Linked DNA regions of Homo sapiens. The protein of the gene in region 1 interacts with the protein of each later gene in a biochemical or structural test. Each region holds a gene or a part of one and is shown on either strand. Other genes may lie near its edges. The genes, in order: SIGLEC10 and CD52.

Region 1 (2,879 bases):
CCAGCCCGGACAACAGAGACAAAATCTGTTTCAAAAAAATAATTGATAGCCGGGTACGGTGGTTCACACCTGTAATCCCAGCACTTTGGGAGGCTGAGGCGGGTGGATCACCTGAGGTCAGGAGTTTGAGACCAGCCTGATCAACATGGTGAAACCCCGTCTCTACTAAAAATACAAAAATTAGGGGGGCATGGTGGTGGATGCCTGTAATCCCAGCTACTCAGGAGGCTGAGGCAGATGAATCGCTTGAACCAGGAGGTGGAGGTTGCAGTGAGCCGAGACCTTGCCACTGCACTCCAGCCTAGACAACAACAGTGAAATCCCATCTCAAAAAATAAAATAAAATAAAAATAAATAAAATAAAGAATAGCATGCATGCACGGAGAGAAAGACTGGAGGGGGTGAGAACGGAAGCAGAGAAGGCATGCAGAAGGGGCCAGTGGTGCCCGGGGTGGGGTGGGGGGTGTTGATGCATGGCTTGTAGTAGTGAGGGAAGAGTAGGGAGAACTGGCTTGGTTGTATTTTGAAGGGAATTTGCTGATGGATTGGTTGTGGGGTGACAGAGAAGAGAGGAGTGAAATATGATTCTAAAGCTTTAGACTTGGCTGGGAAAATGTGGTGTTATTTGCTAAGATGGGGATAGAGATGGAGCATAAATGGTGGAATTAGTCTTTTTTTTTTTTTAGATGAAGTTTCGCTCTTGTTGCCCAGGCTGGAGTGCAGTGGCATGATCTCACTGCAACCTCCACCTCCTGGGTTCAAGTAATTCTCCTGCCTCAGCCTCCCGAGTAGCTGTGATTACAGGCACCCATCACCATGCCCAGGTAATTTTTTGTATGTTTAGTAGAGATGGGGTTTCACCATGTTGAACACGCTGCTCTTAAAATTTTGACCTCAGGCGATCCACCCACCTCGGCCTCCCAAAGTGCTGGGATTACAGGTGTGAGCCAGCAGGCGTGGCCTTTTTTTTTTTGAGACAGGGTCTCACTCTGTCACCCAGGCTGGAGTGCATGGTGTCATCATGGCTCACTGTAGCCTCCAACTCCCAGGCTCAAGAGATCCTCCCACCTCAGCCTCCCAAGTAGCTGGGACAATGGGCATGCACCACCACACCCGGCTAATTTTTTATTTTTTTTGTAGAGAAGAGGTCTCACTATGTTGCTCAGGCTGGGGAATTATCTTAAGTTGGTTTTGGACAGGCTAAGTTTGAAGTGCTGATTAGACACCCACATGGAGATGTTGCATAGACAGTCTTCAGGGAAGGAGCCACGAGATACAATTTTGCAGTCATCAGCATAAGATGTTATCTCTTAATAATTTCCAGAATTTACAGAGTATTACCCAGGGGCCAGGTGATATTCTGAATATTTTATTATGCAAGTACAATATATTTAACACCCAGCATCATCCTAGGAGGTGGCCGCTAGTATTGTCTCCATGTTACAGCTAAAGAAATTGAGGCACAGAGAAGTTAAGACACTTGTTTCATGACACAGTGATGACAGCAGGATTTGAACCCATGCAGGCTGATTTCAGACCCCCTGTGCTGAATCCCTAGGATGCCCAGCCTCCCGATGATACACATAATTGTTAAGCAGTTAAGTGTAGTCATGTCAATGGTGGCAGTAATAATGGAACAATGGCTACAGATTGAGAAAGTGCATGTATTCTAATCCTCAAACCAACTCTCAAAGGAGACAGAGGAAGAAATGAAGGCTCAGAGGGGGTGAGTGACGTGGCTGAGGTCTCATAGCTAGTAAGTGCCAGGCAGGATTTGAATTCAGAACTATCGGTGCTTTTCCCACCTTGATGTCGCTAAGACAAGGGGTGCAAAAGTCAGAAAGTGGGATGTCAGCTTTAGAGAAGAGAAAAAGTGGAAGCATGGCCCAGACACTCACCAGGGGGCCAGCCGTCGGGACCACATTGATGTAATCCAGGATCGTGCTGTGCCGGGAGAACCTGGGCCTCGGGGTTTCTGTCTGAGTCCGTCTCTTCGGTAGAATCTTCATGCTGAGGAAATGAACCCACCTGTTTGTGCCCTGCTGCACCTCCCTGTGACAGACTGCCACGTTTACTACCTGAGACCGTCACTATGACAGTTACTACTGTTACCACTTGAGACCGTCATTATGAGACTGAAAGAAGGAGGACAAACGTAGAAATGAAAACTTAAGACAAAAGAAATTATTTTAAAGGAAGGGGTCAGGGGAAGAAGAAGAGGGTTCCCTGCTACTAGTGAGCCAGGGCAGCTGTCTGAGCCTCTACAGCCCTTTGTATTTATTGGGTAGAAAGAGCAGAGAGCAGGAGGTAACAATTGGTCAGCTGTTTAATTGATCACAGGTTCATATTATTACTAACAAGCTTCAGCTGTGCCTAATTACAAGAAACACTTCGCTTGGGGCGTGACTGCCCTCAGCATTCCCTCTGGGAAGCAGACGCAGTTTGTCAGTTGGACAACATTCTGCATTTATGAGAACAGTTTGCTGTTTACTCATGTAACCTCCAGAGGTATACTGCGTTGATCACGACCTTCACTCTTTCGGCCTGCAACACCTCCCCTCTTCCTGGGTCCAGGCCCCAGACCCCGCCACGCCTCCTCTTAACCTACATGATCAGGGCCAGGCAGAGGAAAAGAAGAGCCGTGATGCCGATTCCCAGAAACGCTCCGTTGGAGAATGCCGTTGAGATGAGTCCCTTCTTATCTGCACACGGAGAGGGCAAGGTGAGCATTTCCCATCCACGCAGGGCTCACGAAGCCCGCTCATCACTCGGCATTAAGGCTTCCGGTTCCCATGGCGGACATTGTATCTGCAACCCCTCTGTTTACTTTTAGGAAACCCTGCCACACCCCGGCCCAGGTGTTAGGACTTCCCATTGTG
Region 2 (4,387 bases), on another chromosome or scaffold:
GGTAGTGGGGTAGGGGCTCTCTGAGCCTGGGATGTCCAGGGTGGTGGCATCTCTAGTACCATCATTCCCAAACACCCAGGGATGGATGAAGCAAACGCAACTGCAGGGTTGGTGAGGCTGCCAGGTTCTGGGCCTTGTCCCTGCAATGTGCTTCTAAGGGGAAGGGCCCTCAGCATTGGAATTTAGGTGGGGAAGCTGGGGGCTGCTCCCTGGTGCCAATTTCCCTGCTGATGGGGACATGGGAAACTCCCTGGTGCTGCTGCACAGCTGGCTCTTGGGGCGTAGGGATGTCCAGTAACCACAAGCAGGACCCCACTGCAAGTACAAGGGTAACTTTATTGACCCCCAGCTGGGCACTGCTTGGCCCCTACATCATTACCCCCCTATTTTGGCTGTTGCCCCCATGGCACTGCCTGTCAACTTCTACAACCTGGTGATGTCTGGCATCAACCCCTCCCAAAGATGGAGGGGATTCTCTTGCGAGTGATGGTGGCAGCTGTTTCAGGGGGCACAGGGCTAAGGCTGAGACGTGTCACCTCAACTGAAGCAGAAGAGGTGGATTATGGCATTGGCCACGAAGAAAAGGAAAATGCCTCCGCTTATGTTGCTGGATGCTGAGGGGCTGCTGGTTTGGCTGGTGTCGTTTTGTCCTGAGAGTCCAGTTTGTATCTGTAGGAGGAGAAGTGGGATAAGATCAGGGGACTTTTTTTTTTTTTTTTAGAGGTGGAGTCTCACTCTGTCACCCAGGCTGGACTGCAGTGATGCGATCTCGGCTCACTGCATCCTCCACCTCCCGGGTTCAAGTGATTCTCCTGCCTCAGCCTCCTGAGTAGCTGGGACTATAGGCACGTGCCACCACGCCCGGCTAATTTTTCTATTTTTAGTAGAGACGGGGTTTCACCATGTTGGTCAGGCTGGTCTCGAACTCCTGACCTGGTGATCCACCCGCCTCGGCCTCCCAAAGTACTGGGATTACAGGTGTGAGCCATCGTACCCAGCCCTCAGGGGACTTTTGAATAGCGTGTTTGTTATTTAAAGATGCAGTCCCCTTTCTACCCTCCCCGCCCTCCATCCGCCCACCTCCATAAAACAGTCCTCAGTTCTGCCCCATGTGACCACTACTTCTTCCACAAGGTCCTGTCAGGATGTTTGACTGCTTCCTGCTTTGACACAGGCAGGGACAGAGGTGATCACTGCCCCTGTCCACCCCCTTTCACAGAAACTTTCTGTTTTTTTGAGATAGAGTTTCGCTCTTTTGCCCAGGCTGGAGTGAAGTGGCATGATCTCGGGTCACTGCAACCTCCACCCCTCAACCTCCCGAGTAGCTGGGATTATAGGCAGCCGCTATCACGCCCAGCTAATTTTTTTTTTTTTTCCGAGACAGAGTCTTGCTCTGTCGCCCGCCCAGGCTGGAGTGCAGTGGCGTGATCTCGGCTCACTGCAAGCTTCACCCCCAGGTTCACGCCATTCTCCTGCCTCAGCCTCCCGAGTAGCTGGGACTACAGGCGCCCGCCACCACGCCACGCCCGGCTAATTTCTTTTTGTATTTATGGTAGAGACGAGGTTTCAATGTGTTAGCCAGGATGGTCTCGATCTCCTGACCTCATGATCCACCCGCCTCAGCCTCCCAAAGTGCTGGGATTACAGACGCGAGCCAGCGCGCCCGGCTCGCCCAGCTAATTTTTGTATTTTTAGTAGAGACGGGATTTTGTCATGTTGGCCAGGCTGGTCTTGAACTCCTGACCTCAGGTGATCCGCCTGCCTCGGCCTCCCAAAGTGCTGGGATTATAGGCGTGAGCCACCGTGCCCGGTCACAGAACCTTTCTTTTCACCTTTCCCCAGCGACCAGCCCTTCTGGCATAGAGGGAGACAGGGGAGCCCTGGCCCTTGACCTTCCTAGCCTGGCAAAGGGCTTAGCTTCCCTGAGCCTCAGTTTCATCTTCTGAGTGGGGAGAAGTTCATCACAGTTGTGAAGGTCACATGAGCCAGGGCTGAGTGAGAAAGCACTTGGCAAAGCGTGGGTGGCTGGATGTGGGGTGGGGAAGTGGCCAGATGGTGATCGAGCTGTCCTTAATGCTTGATGGAGCTGCAACTAGAACTGTTCTTGATGGAGATTAAGCTGGTTTTGATGGTGATCAAGCTGTTCTTGATCAAGAACTTGATGGCTCCGGTCTGCTGTACTGACTCCCCTCTGGGCACCTGGGATGCTACCAAAGCTGCCTCCTGGAATAGCAGTCGCTTTTGAGACTCCAGTTGTTTCTGAAATGGGAGAGTCCTGTCTTCTTTGCATTCCTGAACATCCAGGCTTCTCTCTGGCAGGGGAGTGGGGGTTAGAGTGTCCCCTGTCACCTCCATAACCACAGCAGGCTCCACTTGGACATCTCCTGGCCTCTCCCCAAAGGACCATCTCCCCAGACTCCCTGTGGGCCGATGCCTTCCTCACTCAGGGTTGTCTTCCCAAGTCTCTTAGTTCTCTATTATTCCACAACACCCCTTGGGTGCCCCAACGCGCCTAGCACCCTGTAAGTGCTCCCCAGCTGTGGATACAGGTTTCTCTCAGGGCAGCCCGCAAGCAGTGCAGCCCCAGCCAGAAGAGCTGGAAGGCTGGGCGGCCAGGCCCGCTGTGTCCCCAGTTTTCCTGTTGGAGTCCATCTGCTGTGCTCTCAGGAGAGAAGGCTGGGTCTCTGGGAGCTCACATCCTGTATGCCCTCCCTCCATGCCAAGCAACTTTGGGGAGTCCTGGCAGTGGTGCCAGGCGTTGCTCTTACCTGTACCATAACCAGGAGGCTGATGGTGAGTAGGAGGAAGAGGAAGCGCTTCATTTTGGTAGGATCTTCGTGGCTGTCTTGGTAGCAGCTTTTTAGGTGATCTCAGGGCTGTCTGGAGGCTTCTTTTGGTTTAGCTGCTTTTGAACCAGGAGGCAGAGGAGGCGGGGTGAGGTAGGGAGAGGAAGGAGGGCTTACAAGGTGGAGGAGGGGTGTGGCTTCCTTTCTGCAGATCTGGGGGTGGATAATACCAGGCTCTAGGTTCTAAGGCCCTGGCTGGGGGAGCAGGCTAGATCGTACAAGATAGGAGAGAGGTCAATCCAGAGGCAACGGTGGGAGTAAGTAGGGCCCAAGGCCTGGAATCATGCATCCTGCAGGCTGAATCCTGGTTTAATCACTGACCAGCTCTGAGACCCTGGGCCAGAAACTCTACCTCTCTGACCCTTTAACAAAAGAACTGCCGGATTACATGTAATAATAACCAATTTAAAAAGAGCCAGAACATAGCAGATATTCCGTAAATGAGTTTGTTGTTTAAAGAAGATTGGGGCAGGGTATAGGAGCTGAAGGAGAAGGGCTGGGATAGATTTATGTTTCAAGGGAAGGTTGTAGATGGGCTGCAGGTTCTGAATGAAAGCTTGGGAAATGTTTAGATTGTGGAAGGGTTGGTGGATTTCTGTGAAGGTGCTGGAGGTGAGGAATCGGGAAGCCTGGTTTCAGTTGGGCTTTCCCTCTCTAGGCCTCAGTTCCTCATTTCAAGGAACTGGGAAGACTGAAATAGATTATTTCTGAAGTTTGTTAAAACCTAGTGTTTTGTTTTGTTGTTGTTGGTTTTTTTGTTTTTTTTTTTAAACAGAGTTTTGCTCTGTGCACTGGCATGATCTCGGCTTACTGCAACCTCCACCTCCTGGGTTCAAGCAATTATCCTGCCTTGGCCTCCCGCATAGCTGGGACTACAGGTGTGTGCCACCATGCCTGGCTAATTTTTTGTATTTTTTTTTTTTTTTTAGCGGAGACTGGGTTTCACCATGTTGGCTAGGCTAGTCTCGAATGCCTGATCTCAAGTGATCCGCCTGCCTCGGCCTCCCAAAGTGCTGGGATTACAGGCATGAGCCACCGCGCCCAGCCAAGACCTAGAATTTTGTGATTTTGGTAGAGAAAGTAGCAAGCAGATGGGTTGTTTGTATTAGCTGAGGATGAATGGGAGGGGAGCGAGGGAAGGGACAAGTGGGTGACTAAGCTACAGTGGAAGGGGACTGGGGTGAGAGAGTGGCTGTGAGGGCCCAGGGAGGGGTGGGGGGATGAGAGGAATCCCACAGCTGCCTGGATAGTGCTCCATGCTTTATGCATTCCCTCACTTGATACCCTCTGTGGTGCCCTGCAGCAGGTGTTATGTTTATCCCCATTTGACTGGTGAAAAAACTGAGGCTTAGATGTTAAGTGACTTGCTAAGGTCGTAAATGGTGGAGCCAGTCTCATTTGACCTTGAATCCAGGTCTGTCTGAAGCCACAGCCATGTATGTAACCTCTGGGGCTGCCCTAGAATTCATCCATTAAGTCTTGATTCCCTGCCACTCCCTCCCCCTCCCCTACACAAACTCCCCCCAGGCCCCAGGAGTTGG

The links.
Region 2: the proteins of SIGLEC10 (region 1) and CD52 form a complex in vitro, tested with the Homo sapiens proteins (one large-scale study listed by IntAct).

What each region holds. Positions count from the first base shown.
Region 1 is NC_000019.10:51,411,814-51,414,692, forward strand, and holds part of SIGLEC10 (sialic acid-binding Ig-like lectin 10 isoform 1 precursor), read right to left. Parts: intron 2,703-2,879; coding exon 2,609-2,702; intron 2,011-2,608; coding exon 1,899-2,010; intron 1-1,898. UniProt on the Homo sapiens protein: Putative adhesion molecule that mediates sialic-acid dependent binding to cells. Preferentially binds to alpha-2,3- or alpha-2,6-linked sialic acid. The sialic acid recognition site may be masked by cis interactions with sialic acids on the same cell surface.
Region 2 is NC_000001.11:26,316,453-26,320,839, reverse strand, and holds CD52 (CAMPATH-1 antigen precursor), read right to left. Parts: upstream 2,883-4,387; 5' UTR 2,823-2,882; coding exon 2,769-2,822; exon of another isoform or gene 2,485-2,768; intron 670-2,484; coding exon 538-669; 3' UTR 317-537; downstream 1-316. UniProt on the Homo sapiens protein: May play a role in carrying and orienting carbohydrate, as well as having a more specific role.